Linked DNA regions of Homo sapiens: region 1 is linked to region 2. A link means that fine-mapping ties the variant in region 2 to the expression of a gene that starts in the linked region. Tissue or cell type: whole blood. Region 2 holds a variant in brackets; the other region holds the start of a gene. All regions are shown on one strand. Distances are from middle to middle.

The links. PIP is the estimated chance that this variant, and not a neighbour inherited with it, causes the effect.
Region 1: it holds the start of SSH2, and the variant in region 2 is fine-mapped to the expression of SSH2 in whole blood (INTERVAL, PIP above 0.99).

What each region holds. Positions count from the first base shown.
Region 1 is chr17:29,927,089-29,935,187 of GRCh38, forward strand. It overlaps SSH2 (slingshot protein phosphatase 2), which reads right to left and starts at 3,140. Exons shown (of 16, transcript NM_001282129.2): 1 at 2,850-3,140. The coding sequence starts at 2,912. It also overlaps a transcript of EFCAB5 not described here. RefSeq lists silencers at 2,340-2,389, 2,900-3,179, 3,330-3,419, 4,153-4,322, 6,283-6,577.
Region 2 is chr17:29,746,618-29,754,724 of GRCh38, forward strand. The region is part of intron 3 of SSH2 (slingshot protein phosphatase 2); the gene reads right to left. Among named protein-coding and RNA genes, the nearest start is that of SSH2-AS1, 110 kb to the left of the region's middle. The variant A/C (reference allele first, on the strand shown) is at 4,923.

The DNA.
Region 1 (8,099 bases), 180 kb after region 2:
TAAATGAATTAATTCATGTAAAGCGCTTAACATGATGCCTGGCATAGATGAGGACCCAAGAAATGTTAGATATTGTTATACTCTTATTATTAACATTGCCATTAGTGAACTTATCTTAATCTGAATTCAGACAATACTTATGACCATCACAAACTCTTCAGGTACCTACAGTATCATTCCCCTTCTTCTTCTTTTCCCTCTTACCTTATGTTTGTTCTTCCTCCAATGCCCCAGCCCCCCAGATTGCAAGATCCTGATGAACAGGTCAATTTCCTATACATCTTAGTATCTACAATGGTCACTCACACCTAGCATATTGTTTAATGCCTAATGAAACAACACTAAAGAGCTGGCAGTATTAAAATGCCCTGCATCCTATAGTGTAAAAGTATTAACAGCGTACTTAAAGTGATTAATAAAAAAATGTAAATTTCCAGTCTCACAAAATTAAATCTCTTCTTTCATGGTCCTCTAGGTTCTTTTTGCTCTCTATTTTAAAACAAACAACCCAACCTATTCATACAGCAAGAGATAGAACAGCAAAATATATGGAGGTCAGACAGCAGCCAAATGCTAGAGTACAAGGACCTCGAAACAACTCAGCTGAACACAATTCTGGATGAAGTCCAATAGGAAGACAATTTAAAGAGAAAGGAAGCTGGCTTATCAGTTATACTAATGATGCTGATTGTTACACCAGCCTTAGGATTCCTTTGCATTCAGGGCCAAGTATAAACAACTGAAATAACCAGGCTAGTAGATATAGAAATATTAGTGATTTTGCTCAACAACTGAGCTTATTACATGATCAATTTAATTACCTATGTCAAAAGTGACTATTAACATACCTCAAGATTCTAAAGTAACTCAAGTTTTGGCTAATGAAGTCATATCAAGTGTACACGGTCTTACTGTATACTAATCATTCACTTCAAGTAAATTAGTATGATGACAACTTGATATACATATATTATCATAGCATAAGCTATTTTCAACAGTGCCCAAGGAAAATAAATGTTACTATAGTACTGATTTCTAGTTTATTTGCATGACTCTACTAACTTTCAATCGATTTCTTCAAAATCAGGCCTAGTAACCACAAACCAAAGAGTTTACTAGTGGAGTGAATTAAGAAGGTTTGATGGTATGTTAATGACTTTCCAAAAACTAGCATAAAGTACTACACATAAGAATAAATTATATTAAAGATTTATTCCTATGATACTTGTCTTCAGATGACCCTAAAATGTTTTACCAGCTTTGAAGTACAAGTATTCTCAAATCACAAAATCTTAGATTAGAAATAGTCTTAGAAGTCCCCCACTGCAGGAATTCTTTATACCACCTCCCAGGCAAAATGTTCTCCAGCCTTTGCTTGAATATTTCCAGCAATGTGCACTCACTATTTTGCAAGGCAGTGCACTCCACTGTTACAAATTCTTCCTTACAATCACTGGAAATCTGCCTCCCTGAACCAAGAATCCCAGTTCTGCTCTCTGAAACAACACAAGATATATAACCTTTGAAATAAAATCACTTATTAAGATATAGTTGTCAATTTCATCACACAAAATGCAATTAAAGCTCAGAAAAGAAGAAACCACAACCATACACAACAAAACTTTGAAATTCAGGAAATTATACTGAAATGACAAGCCAGCAAATTTCAGGATATCAAAGCTCACACCTCAGTTAACATACAAATATTAAGGGTAACCTGATGATTTTTTTACAGTGGAAAGTGGTACAGTGTTTATTAAATACCTTTTTTTGCAACCTGATACTACCAAATCCACCAACACCGTTTTTAAAATTACAGTTCTGTAGGAAGTTCAAGGTGGTTTTCCCAGTTGCTCGCATTTTCACTCAGTTTATTTCTCTCTAAAACATCTGGATGTTGGTTTTTTAAAGCCCATTTGCCCCACTGGTGCAATATATTGTTTTTAAAAATAAATATTTTCAAAAATGGAGCCTAAGAGAATGGAGTGTAAACGAATGGGGGTGGGGCGAGGAGAGAAGGCAAAGACGGGCCCAGCGGGGAAAGGCTGGTTACTGGGTATTTTCCTTCTGAGAGCATGCTTTATTGGCATAGGCATCTGAGGTAACGAGCCATACAAACACGACCTTAGAACAAGAATGATCACGAGCAATGAGTGTAAGGCATAAATATCTGTAAGACGGAAATAATTTGACACTGATCACTAAGCAGCACCAGATGCTTCGGGACCTCATAAAGGAAAGGTAAGAGGTCCAGGAAACAGAGATCATTGCTACCCTCTGGGGTGGGGGGCAGGCGGGAGAAACCAAGGAATAACTACGGTTGGGCAGTTCAAAGCCTGAACAGTACAGAGCAAAAGAAAGCCAGCAAGTGACTAGGGGAAGGCACACACCCTGGCGAGTACGAAGAAGGGTGTGCAGTGTGCAAATACTGAACAGGTCTATGAAATGGTGTGGGTAAGAGATGTGGGTGTGGGTAAGGGGCAACGCAGGAGGCTCACGGTCCCCTCCCTGCAGCAGAGCAACAGAGGGTAAAAGAAGGGGGAGGGTGAAAAGCAAGAATGACTCATTACCAAAAGGAAGTGCTCAAGCCATAGGGAGGCATGCCACAGGGGATTTCAGGGCGAGGATTGTGAGGAGCTAGGTGCTCAGGGTGATGGGGGCAAAAATCAACGTCTTGTAGTTCCTGCTGCTAGTCTTTAACATGGGGGTGTGGGGGGGTTCGCGGCAGCCGAGTGCCAAGGCCTGGGAAGCGGCGCGGCGCGTGCGCAGTGGCGTTCGGCGGGACCCGCTGAGGCAAAGCGGAGCCGCAGTGACAGAAGCAAGCGGAGCGGCCGCCAGGAAGGACTCACCGAGGCGCAGGGGCTGGAGGTGGTGCTGGGGGTAGGTGACCGCTGGACCGTGACCAAAGCCATCTAGGCGCTGCTGGGTTGTTCCGGGCAGGGCATTCTTGTCCTGAGTGTGGGGGACGGGAGGGTGACGGAGCCGGGATGGGGAAAGGGGTGCGGGGTGGGGGTGAAGGGAACGGGGAGGAGGAGGAGGCCGCGGGAACGGCCGCAGACTCCGCACCCACCACCAGACTGTCGCCGACTGACGCTCCGAACGGGCGGCGGGCGGGCGGTTCCGCAGCTGCGGGGCACAATGAGCGCTCCCAGTGCGCAGGCGCCACCTGTCAGCTACCGCCTCTCCCCTCGGCGCGCGCCGCCGCCTGGTCGTAACCCTTGAGTTGCCGGAAGCTGGCCGAGTGCGTGCGCCTCGGGCCGCCGCACCCTCCTGGGTTTCCTCCTTCGTGCTGGAATCGCGCGGTTTGCCAGCACTGGGTGCTGTGGAGTGGGGTGGGGGAAGGGGCCGAAGGGAGCCAGCCCGGTGAGGGGTCCCAGGGCGGGGGGCCGCTGGAGTCTTCACTCCTGAGAGACAACCATTTTATGAGGTGGGGCGGCGCACAGCTTAACCAACCTTAAAAAAAAGCAGCTGAGATGAAAATCCTGAAGCAAACACGTTTTCTATTGGGAAAGGGCTCCGCGGAGTTTCAAACCCTCTCACTGGGCGCAGACAGAACTGGGCTAGACCAGTTTACTCCCTTCACCCCGGCTCTCGGGGGCTTTTTCTTAACTTTTCCCCCCCTTCCGTCTATGTTTTATGATGAGACTTCTGGAAAGAAAACCATTTTCCGTTTGATACCCTGGAAAGGTTTGTGGTACCCTCATGCTTCCTCTATTGCCTGTCTAAAGACTTATTCATTATTCCTGAGGAGAAGAGAAGCTGAGCGCGCCTGGGAGTCCGAGGAAGCCGGTTGTGAGGGTCCAGCCTGCTATTGACCTCTCACTTGCCTCCTGCTGTGAAGACAGTCTTTTAATTAAACAGGATTTGCTCGTTAAGCTTTCTTCTCCTTCGTCTCTAAATGTCATTCTTTCATAGACCTATGTAAAAATGTAGATTAAAAGATATTTTAAGGGAATGGTTTTCTCAGGGGTAAATTGTCTGCAGAACATAAGCAAAGAATGTAATGGAAAATCAAGATTAAAAAGGAAAAAAATTGCACAATGCAAATATCACTGATTATTTACACAAAGAAAGAGAGTTGACAAGGCTATTTCTCAGCTTGAGTGGATGAGCTGGTAAATACCACCGTACATATCAAAGCTGTAGAAAACACACACACTTGGGAGTTTGCAGTTATTAAAACCCACCCCCTCCTGTTTGTCACTCAAACACTCTTGGATCTCATTGCTTCTTTTAAACTGACAGGGCTGTCATGAGCTCTTTCTGGCTGCTGTACGGTTAAACGCCACAAGAGTCCTCTGTGCTGAGCCTTTGTTCTCTCCCTGGGGCCCTGTGGTTGAAATAATTAGCAGGGAGGTTCCATCAAGAATCAGACACTGAGGGTCCCTGTACTGTACAGTCCTATGTAGAGTGTAGTGCAGAGAAGCCAGCTGGTAGGCTTTTGCCCCCTGGTGGTGATCAGGAGTGCCTGTGAGACAAAATTAAACAAAGATGTATGGTTCACAGATTAAACAATCTGACTGTGTTTTCCCCAGAGCTCCGTAGTAAACAGGAAAAGAGAAGGCAAGTTTCAGAAGTAAGAACTTTGAACCAATGCATGGGAGACCAAAGAGGAAACTAGATACATAGCCAAAAAATACACATAGCTAGAAGCTGAATGAACTCAAATAAATGAAATATATGTGCTTTATGAACCAAAGTATCATTCTAGAAAAAGTAATATTCAAATCTGTAGGTCTTAGTACTTGTATGTTGATTCTCTGACTCAGGGAGGGCAACAATGATGTTCTACTTTTTCATGGTAACATACTCTTCAGAAATTCTTTTGGAAGATGAAAGGCTTAAGTCCATTAACCTTGCAGTGAGAAAGAGCACTACCATAGGAATCAGAAGACCTGGTTTCTAGTTCCAGCTCTAAAACCTTATGCAAATGGCTTGAACTTTTTGAGCTTTAATTCCTTTATCTCTACAATGGAACCCTAACTGACAAGATTCTTGAGATAATGTATGGTAAAGTTCAGAATAAACTGTAAATAAAGCCCTCTATGCAATTAAGATAACTTTTTTTTTTTTTTTTTTTGAGACGGAGTCTCCCTTTGCCACCCAGGCTGGAGTGCAGTGGTGCAATCTCGGCTCACTGCAACCTCCGCCTCCCGGGTTCAAGCAATTCTCCTGCCTCAGCCTCCCGAGTAGCTGGGATTACAGGGGCCCGCCACCACACCCGGCTAGTTTTTATATTTTTAGTAGGGACGGGGTTTCACCGTATTGGCCAGGCTGGTCTCGAACTCCTGTCCTCAAGTGATCTGCCCACCTCGGCCTCCCAAAGTGCTAGGATTACAGATGTGAGCCACTGTGCCCGGCTTTTTTTTTTTTTTTTTTTTTTTGACACGGATTTTTGCTCTTGTTGCCCAGGCTGGAGTGCAATGGCACCATCTCAGCTCACTGCAACCTCCACCTCCCGGGTTCAAGCTATTCTCCTGTCTCAGCCTCCTGAGTAGCTGGGATTACAGGCATGTGCCACCACGCCCGGCTAATTTTATGTCTTTTTAGTAGATATGGGGGTTTCACCATGTTGGTCAGGCTGGTCTCGAACTCCTGACCCCAGATGATCCACCTGCCTTGGCCTCACAAAGTGCTGGGATTACAGGTGTGAGCCCCCGCACCCGGCCATCATTCTTTTTCTTAATAGTAGAAGTAGATTAGTGGTCAAGACATGTTTCATCTGTAGGTAAGTGTGGAACATTTTTGTTCCACATATCTAAGGTGATAAAATCCTGATCAAAATTGAATTATGGGATGACAAAATTCACATTGTTTGTATCAGGAAGTTAATTTATTAATTTTCAGGGGAAATATCTCTTCCTGGTATATACCTTTTAAGGAAACTAAGATTTGGAAATTATTGGTGCATGTTCATTAATTTATTTACTAATAATTGAGAAAATATTTATTGAATGTGTATCATATACTAGACACTGCTTTAAGAACAAGACAAATGTTTATCTACCTCTTAGGGGCTCAAAGCCAATTAGTAGGGGAAAACACATCAACAAATAATTAGAGCGTAGCTTAGTGGTACCATGGCTTCTGTCACCTCGGCTAGGCGCGAAAGGAGGTATGTAGAAATATAGAAGAAGTCTATATACGTACAAAGTTCTATAGAAACAAAGGAGAGAAGGTCTGGGCAAATGTGCTCTTTATGATATTGGCTTTCAGGCTTTGTCTGCAGATCCCAGTACAGTCGCTTTGCGAACGGAGCTGGACCACACTAAGCATTTGATGAAATCTATGCTTTGTGCCCCATTTATACCTAATTTCCCTAGGCTCCACCCTGGTTCCTCCTAGGTCTTCTGGTGAACTGAGAGAGGAGATATCTTCTAATAGAGTGAAGAGCCTAGGATCCTCTTACTATTCTAGCTGAATTTGAGGAGAGAGAGGCCAAGAGCAGGATTCCCAAAAGAGGGAGCCAAAGAGACAAAAGTCCTCCTAGTTCTACTTAGAGCACTTTCACTCTTCCCACCTGCGATGCTGGAGGCCTGGTTGTACCACTGGAGTCCATTTAACCCTTAACTTGTATCAATACTTCTTCCGGGGTGAAATTATAGGGGAGCTTGAAATCTCTGAGGTTAGCTGGTTCTCAAGCTTTGAGAACCTGATGAAAACTATTGACCTTCTCTCCAGAAAAATGTACTTGCATATTTCTCATACCTACTAAAACCTATCAAGGAACCAAGGTGAAGAATCCTGATCTAAATGTTAAAGGGGTGGTTCTCTACCTTTTTTTTCCACATCATGACATCCATAGAAATAGTATTTGTACAGCACACTGGGATAAATTAAAGGGGATTTGGAGGCAGCTAATTACATGGGGCTTGGTGAAAAAAATTGTTTCTTTATATTACTTACTTTTAATGACAAAAATAAACATATTAAGGATGACACTAAATATTGAATTTGTATACATTTCCAAACAAAGATGTCTAAAAATTTAATGAAAAACCTGAGATTGCTTCTGTAAACATAACATTTTTTATACAGGATTTTATGATTGAAATGACGGCTTGCAGTTCTTGAATGAGACAGTTTAACAGTGATGTCTTCAAATTCTTGGTAGTCATTATTGATGAGAATTTAGTTCATACAAGTAGGTGATAAAAAAACTTTTAAACAATTTTCACAACAATTCAAAATTTAAAAGTATAAATTATAATTGATAATATATCCACATTATCACAGGGTATTTCCTCGTTACATTTGCCAATGGGAATTTCCCCATCTACCCAAACACTTTTTGTGTCAAGTATCTATTGCAAAATATTGATAAAGGTCTAATTTGCAGAGTTAGATTGTGTTATTAGATCAATAATTCTTCATCTAACTTGAACATAATTAAAAGGGCGCATCAGATATAAACAAAAGGAAGAATGCTATATATATAAAAAGAGAGATCATAAGCTGAGTTCATCAGGAGTACCTAGCAGGCCTCCCTGCATTTCCTGGCCTTATCTGAGGCTGTAAGTCCTGCTCTTTTGGTACCTGGAACATCCTCCAAAGCTCAGTGTTTACAATAGGCAGCAGTGTGTACTACAATTGTCTTGTGAAAGTGATGACCTGGTGGTAGAATACTCCTTGGCTTTGCTTGGCAAGAACTTCATTGTGCTGTCCACCAGTGGGACCATGGGCATACTAGGGTGGGTATTCACACCCTGATTTTGGGGGGCTGCTGAGAATCTCTAGATCACACTGCTTCTTGCCAGGAGTGAATTACCTAGATTTATCAACCACTCCAGTTATTTTAAGTAACTCCTCAGGCTGAATAGATCCCTATCTTGCAATATATCTATAACTCATTCATTGCATACCAAATGAAGTATTTCACTTAAAAGATTATGACTTATATAGCTAAGCTTAAGACAGAGCAAAAAAAAAGTGAGTCAAAAAAAAAGACACAAGAAATCATGGTCCTATCCTTGATAATCCAATCCCTTATATTTGAAACAATTTGGGCATAATTATAAGTATAAATTAATATAGCACAGATATATAAGAGCTGAGAGCAACTGCAGTATTATTGAGTCATGTGTTGCCTTCACTTGGTT
Region 2 (8,107 bases):
TGTTCATGAGAACTGTGTATATTAACATTAAGAGAAAGAGTAACTTAAAAGGGACGTGGGTCAGAGGAGAGTCCTGAAGAAATGGCATCTCCCAAGAGCTCTGTTGTAAGTGATATTTATTTAAAATCAGAGGAAAAAAACTCTCATTCAATTTAGCCCTCATGGAGACTAACTGGTTTTTATGACACAAAATTCAGAGAACAGCAGAGACAAAAATGCACCAATAAGATGCCAAGCTCATAAACCTGACCAGCTTTTTGCTGGGGTGATGAAGTATGCTTAAAGTGTTGCTTAAGTTGCAAACAGATAAAGCCATATGTAGCATAAACTTTTCCGCAGTCACTACAGAAGACAATCAATATAAAGTCCACAATTAGAACGCTCAGGACTTGAAATATCCTGTTATGGATCACGAATATCCATGTAAATTTTGATGGATAAATATTAAGTACAGATGATAAAAGTAACAACCATAACTGGAATTTTTATTGTTATTTCTTGTGAATAATTATCTCACGTGATATCCAAAATGTCCTGAAATGAGGCAGGTACCATCCTCAAACAAACATATACAACAATTTAAATAGTTTAGTTCATTACCAAAAAAAATCAAATAATTCTACTTCTTCTACCCTGGAAACCTAAATTGTTACAACTTTTAAAGAAAGCTTATAATTGGCTAATACTGAGGCTTCTCTTTATTTAGGAGTGATTCAAACCTCTGGATTTTGTAGCTTTACCAAGTGTAACTAAGCCAAATCCCTCGAATTACTAAAAGAGGGGTTATACCCCTCTAAAAATAGATTAATGCAGAAAACACAAGTTGTTAAATTCACACAACATGCAAAAAGGGTGAGCCCAGATTTGCCCTTTGGTGTGCAACAAGAACAATCTATTTATAAATTACTGGCTACACCCTTTCCAAATTACAGGAACACCTAAAAAGGCCTTGATGTTCTTAGCATATTTCTTTAAGGTAAACTTAATTATGTTAGTTATACAGCAACCATCCTGTATCATTCAACGATGCAAAGCTAACTCTAACCCTAACTAAAAATAGGATACTGATTTTTTCTTTCCACCTTAGAAATTGTAAAGTATGTGAAAGATTCAGAAATTGTGTGATAACATCTACATCACTGTTCTTTAGCCCCAAGGCAGTTTAACATATGGTAGATTAAGAGGACTCCCATTTACTGGAAGGACCCAAGAGCAGATGGGAGCAAGATGATCTACAGCAGTTTCAGCCTCTCTATTATTGCGAGACCCAACAGCTCTTGGAAACAGAGACTGACAACATCTTTAGTTATTTGGCTTTGGGCAGTGTTTATCAGTGTTAAGTCTAGAGACACTTTCCAATTTCAGGAGTAAATATAGGTGAGCACAAAGGCAAATAGTAGTAGTTTAGAAAAAAAAAGAAATCCATTCTAGACTTATCAAAAAGAAATCTTGACTTGAGCACATCACTACCTTACCATTCCTGTTCATCTTCATTGTGCAGATTTACTTCTCAGTTAACTTGGCTAAGCATGATTCCAAGAAAGCCAAAGTTGAGAGCTCTTTTTTTATACCCCTCAGTTATAGGTTAATTACTGCTCTGCTGATTTTAAACAATCACAAGGGTGGATAAAGCCACAGAAAGTTACCACCAATAATAAAAACACAAATGCATCTTTATACTTTGACAGGGGATCATTAACTGTTCTTTCACATTTGAAGGCCATAACACCCAGAAGATTCACTAGATGTAAACCAATTTGATCACTTTCTTAAAAATACTAAATTTTAAGGCTATATTCTCTAAGGATCAAAAATAACCACAAAAAGTCAGTATTAATTTAAAATCAAAGAGGCATCTCGTACCTCTCTTAAATATTAATATTAGTCTCTTTATCCACCAAAAAGAGAAAAAAAAAGCCCTTAAACCATAAATGAATGCCTGGTTTCAATTACTCAATTATCAATTATTCAGTTATGCTTGCCCATTTCTGTAGAAGACAAGATCTAGATTTTAAGAGCATCACAGATGATAATTATATTTATTCAATGCAAACATGGAAATTTAAAAATGTGAGTGGTAAAAAAAATTCATAAAATAAAAAATACTTGGAATAAAACTTCTTGGTTCTAAGCTTTAAAATACAGATAATCCTACTACAGAGCTGTTTCAGAGCACAGAAAAAAATGAAAAACTACCCAAATCATTCTGTAAATCAGACATAAGCTGGACGAAGACAGCAAAGATTCAATAAATATTTAGATCCCTAAATGCAAAACCTTAAATATTTGTAAACCAAGCCTAGCAATATGTTAAATGAATAACGCAAAAAGGGTGTAGTTCAGTTATGTAAGGATGATTCAACTTCAATAATTCAATGTGTCATTACATTAGCAGTAAAGGGGAAAATATTATTCCGTAGATATAAAAAAGCAGTCAGTAAAATTCAACTATACCTAACTGAAAAATCTTTGTAAATTAGCAATAGTAAGAAATGGCCTCAGCTTGATAAATGATCTGTGCCAGAACCTACACCACACAGTATACTCATTTACAACACATAAGAAGCCTTCTTTTCACACAAGCCCACTAGTATCGCACTACTTAACATTAGAAGGCCTAACCAAAGCAATGAGAGTTATAAATACAGTCATGCATCACTTAATGACAGGAATACATTCTGAGAAATTCATCATTAGGCAAGTTTATCATTGCGTGAACATCATAGAGTATACTTACACAAACCTAGATGGTACAGCCTACTACACACCTTGGCTGGCTATATGGGATAACCATATAGGTGGAAAACCTGTACAGCATGTTACTATACTGAATACTGTAGGCCAACTGTAACATAATGTTAAGTATTTGTATCTCTAAACATATCTACGCATAGAAAAGGCACAGTAAAAATGTGGTATAGAAGATAAAAAGTGGTACACCTGTAAGGGGCACTTACAATCAATGGAGCTTGCAGGACTGGAAGTTGCTCTGGGTGAGTCAGTGAGGGAGTGGCGAGTGAATGTGAAGACCTAGGACATGACTGTAACTACTGTGGACTTTATAAACACCATACACTTAGGCTACACTAAATTTATTTTAAAAACTTATTTTTTCTTGTTTGTTTTTTGAGATGGAGTCTTACTCTGTTGCCAGGCTGGAGTACAGTGGCATGATCTCGGCTCACTGCAATCTCTGCCTCCTGGGCTCAAGAGATTCTCCTGCCTCAGTCTCCTGAGTAGCTGAGATTACAGGTGCCCGCCACCACGCCCGATTAATTTTTGAATTTTTAGTAGAGGCGAGGTTTCACCATGTTGGCCAGGCTTGTCTCAAACTTGAGGCTAGACCTCAAGTGATCTGCTCACCTTGGCCTCCCGAAGTGCTGGGATTACAGGTGTTGAGCCATTGCACCCAGCCAAATGTTCTCTTTTTTCAACAATAACTTTATCTTACAGTAACTTTTTAACTTTATAAACTTTATAATTATTTTAACTTTTTGGCTCTTTTGTAATAATACTTAGCTTAAAACACAGAAAAACTGGCCGGGAGGGGTGGCTCATGCCTGTAATCCCAGCACTTTGGGAGGCCAAGGTGGGTGGATCACTTGAGGTCAGGAGTTCGAGATCAGCCTGGCCAACATGGCGAAACCCCATCTCTACCACAAAATATACAAATTAGCCAGGCGTGGTGGCACGCACCTGTAATCCCAGCTACTTGGAAGGCTGAGGCAGGAGAATCACTTGAACACAGGAGGTGGAGGTGGCAGCGAGCCGAGATCATGCTACTGCACTCCAGCATGGGCAACTGAGTGAGACTCTGTCTCAAAAAAAAAAAAAAATTTTTTTTTAAATAAATAAAAATAAAAAACAGAAAAATTGTACAAATATACAAAAATATTTTCTTTATATGCTCCTCCTCCTTCTTCTTCTAAGAGACAGCATCTCCTCTGTTGCCCAGGCTGCAGTGGCACAATCATGGCTCACTGCAGCCTCAAACTCCTGGGTTCAAGTGATCCTCCTGCCTCAGCCCCCAGAGTAGCTGGGATTACAGGCACAAGCTACTGTGCATGGCTATACCTTTATTCCATAAGCTTTTCTATTTTTAAAATGTATTTTTTTGGCCGGGTGTGGTGGCTCATGCCTGTAATCTCAGCACTTTGGGAAGCTGAGGCGGGCAGATCACCAGGTCAAGAGATTGAGACCATCCTGGTCAACACGGTGAAACCCCATCTCTACCAAAAATACAAAAAAAAAAAAAAAAGTATTTTTTTTTACTCTTGAAACTTTTTTGTTAAAGACACAAACACACACGCTAGCTTAGGCCTAAAGAGTCAGGATCATCAAGATCATTGTTTTCCATCTCCATATCTTGCCACACTGGAAGGTCTTCAAGGGCAATAACATATATGGAGCTGTCATCTCCTATGATAACAATGCCTTCTTTTAGAATACTTCCTGAAGGACCTGCCTGAGGCAGCTTTACAGTTAATATTTTCTTCAAAGTAGAGAGTACACTGTAGGCCAGGCGCAGTGGCTCATGCCTGTAATCCCAGCACTCTGGGAGGCCGAGGCGGGTGGATCACCTGAGGTCCAGAGTTCGAGACCAGCCTGATCAACATAGTGAAACCCCATCTCTACTAAAAATACAAAAGTAGCCAGGTGTGGTGGTGCATGCCTCTAATCCCAGCTACTTGGGAGGCTGAGGCAAGAGAATCATTTGAACCCAGGAGGTGGAGGTTGCAGTGAGCTGAGATTGTGCAATTGCAATGCAGCCTGGGCAACAAGAGCGTAACTCCTGTCTCAAAAAAAAAGAAAAAAAAACAAAGAAAGAGAGTCCACTCTACAATACTGATAAAATGTTCAATACAGTAAATACATAAACCAGCAACGCAGTCGCTTATTATCAAGCATTATGTACTGTACAT[A/C]ACTGTATGCACTATATTTTTATACAACAATGCAGGTTTGTTTGCACCAGCATCACCACAAACACATGAGTAATACATTATGCTACGACATTATGACAGCTATAGTCACTAGGTGATTTTTCATCCCCATTATAATCTTATGGGACCACTTCTGTATCTGTGGTCTGTTATTGACCAAAATGTTGTTATGTGGTGCATAACTGCACTCAGAGAGATAAAATTCATTTACAGATAATATAATCATCCATGAAGAAAAGTCAATAAAATCAAGTAAAAACATATACTAGATATTAGAACCAAGTAAGAGTTTTAGCAAGGTGGTCTGATATAAAAGCAAATATCAAAAGTGATAGTTTTATCACCCACCTGCTGTAACTAATTAGAAAACGTCATGGGAAAGTGGAGCTTATTCACAAGAGCAACAAAAACCTTATAAAATGCCCATGAATATACCTAATAAGAAATGTGTGATTACCATATAAGGAAAACTGTACAATTTAAATGAAGAATATTTAAAAAACAGTGAATAATAGATCCATACATCACATTCTTCATTGGGCAGGCTCATTTTGTAAAACTGTTAATTTTCTCCAAAATTAATTCAGTAAAATTTCAATCAAAATCCTAATACAATTTTTAAAAGTGAAAATTGATAAGCTGATTCTAAGATTTATCTGGAAAATAAAATAAAAATAGTTAGGACACTGAAAAATACCAACAAGGAGGTAAAGCACTGGCATACATTTGTCTACTAAAGGTGTAATAAGTAAAATGAGTACTGGCATATGAACAGAAAAACATGAACAGAACTTAAGAGTACAGAAGTGTACTCCAAGCATCTGTAAGAATTTAATATATATGTAGCATTTCAAATTAGTGAAGTAAGAATGTAAATAATGGTAAATTTGGTATTAGAATAACTATCCAATTGGAAAAAAAAGGTTAAGCTAGATTTTTCCCTCACACTATAAATAAAAATAAATTCCAGATGTTTTAAAGAGTTAAATATTTAAAAATGTAAACATGCCAGAAAAAATATAAAATAACACTTTGAGAATCCTGAGGATGAATGGCAAGAGGTTTTTAAAAAGCAACATGCAAAATCTTGAAATCATAAGATAAAATACAACAGATTTGACTATATAAAAATGTAAAACTTTTATATGGGACGCAAAGTTAAAAGTCAAGCAATAGGCTAGGAGAAAGTATTTTTGCCACATACTCAGAATATATAGAGAACATAAAAAAGAAAAAAGCCAAATATCAATAGAAAAATGGTCAGAAGCACACTCAAATCACAGAAAAAAAAAAAACCAAAAAGATCAGTTACACATAAAAAGATGCTACACCTCCATAGCAATAAGGGGAATTGTAAATAGAGAGGTATTTAAGAGCAGGGACTCTGGAGTCTGACTGCCTGTGTATGCATCCTGGCTGGATAATCTCAGACAAGTTAACCTCTCTGTGCCTCTCTTCTGTAATTGAGGATAATATCTAACTCATAAAGTTGTTAAGAAGAGAGAATGAAATAATATATCCACTGCTCAAAACAGTGTCCCTTAGATAGTAAATGTTCAGTAAAAAATTATCTGCCTTTTTTAAATTTTTTGAGACGGAGTCTTGCTCAGTCACCCGGGCTGGAGTGCAACAGCATGAACTTGGCTCACGGCAACCTCTGCCTCCTGGGTTCAAGCGATTCTCCCTCCTCAGCCTCCCGAGTAGGTGGGATTACAGGCACCCACCATCATGCCCAGCTAATTTTTGTATTTTTGTAGAGATGGGGTTTCACCATGTTGTCCAGGCTGGTCTCGAACTCCTGACCTCAGGTGATACCCCCAACCTCAGCCTCCCAAAGTGCTGGGATTATAGGTGTGAGCCACTGCGCCCGGCTTATCTGCTATTAATGTTATTATTGGGGTTGGTGAAGATATAGGGAAAGATATGCCTACACACTGCTGGTTAAGAGCAAATTGGTGGCCAGGTGCGGTGCCTCACGTCTGTACTCCCAGCACTTTGGGAGGCCGAGGCAGGTGGATCACGAGGTCAGGGGTTCGAGACCAGCCTGACCAAACATGGTGAAACCCCGTCTGTACTAAAAATACAAAAATTAGCTGGGCGTGGTGGCGGGCACCTGTAATCCCAGCTACTCAGGAGGCTGAGGCAGAATTGCTTGAACCTGGGAGGCAGAGGTTGCAGTGAGTTGAGATCGTGCCACTGTACTCCAGCCTGGGCGATAGAGTGAGACTCTGTCTGAAAAAAAAAAAAAAAAAGAACAAATTGGTAAAGTCTTTTTAGAAAGCAATTTGGCTATATGTATCAAATTTTTAACATATATACAACATTAGGTCCAGCAATTCCACCGCTAGAAATTTATCTAAAGAAATGTTTACATATGTATACAAAGATGTGTGTATCAGGATTGTGAGTGCAGCACTACAGGAGCTCTGGATTCAGAGACAAGAAATGCTTGTTCTAGTTTCAGTTCTACCATCAAGCCATGTAGCCTTGTGCAAATCACTTCAGCATTTTGATTCTCTAGTTTGTTATGCTATAAAATGTGGACGATGACTTGCCCAATCTGCCTCAGAGGAATACTTTAATTAAGGTAGGGTCCTTAGGCCATCATCATCAGCATCATCTAGGAACTTGTTAGAAATGCAAATTCTCCAGCCACATCCTAGACTTACAGAATCAGAAACTCTGGGGACTGTGGGTAGCAATTTGTGTTTTACCAAGCCCTCCAGGTGATTCTGATGCAAGCTTAAGTTTGGAGATAAGTTCATGTGAAACCCCTTGTACAACTACAAAGTGGAACTGAAAGAGCATTAGTACTATTACTAATACAAAAAATAAGACTTTCTACCTTTTGATTTCATGAAAAGGTACATTTTGGATGAACATCCAATATGCTCCTCTACTGCTGACGCTGAGCCTTAGAAAGCACTCATGTGCTTCTAGGAAGTCAAGTTCATATATGAACCAAGTAAATAAATAAAAATATTTTAGGTCAAGTATATAAAAAGCTTAAGATAACCTCAACAGCAAATCAAGCAATGTTTCAGTGCCTTAGTTTCAAGACAAGACTTTTTTGATCAGAGGTTTTCATAATGGGAATATTTTATTTTATTTTTATTTATTTATTTTTGAGACAGGGTTTTGCTCTGTTGCCCAGGCTGAAGTGAAGT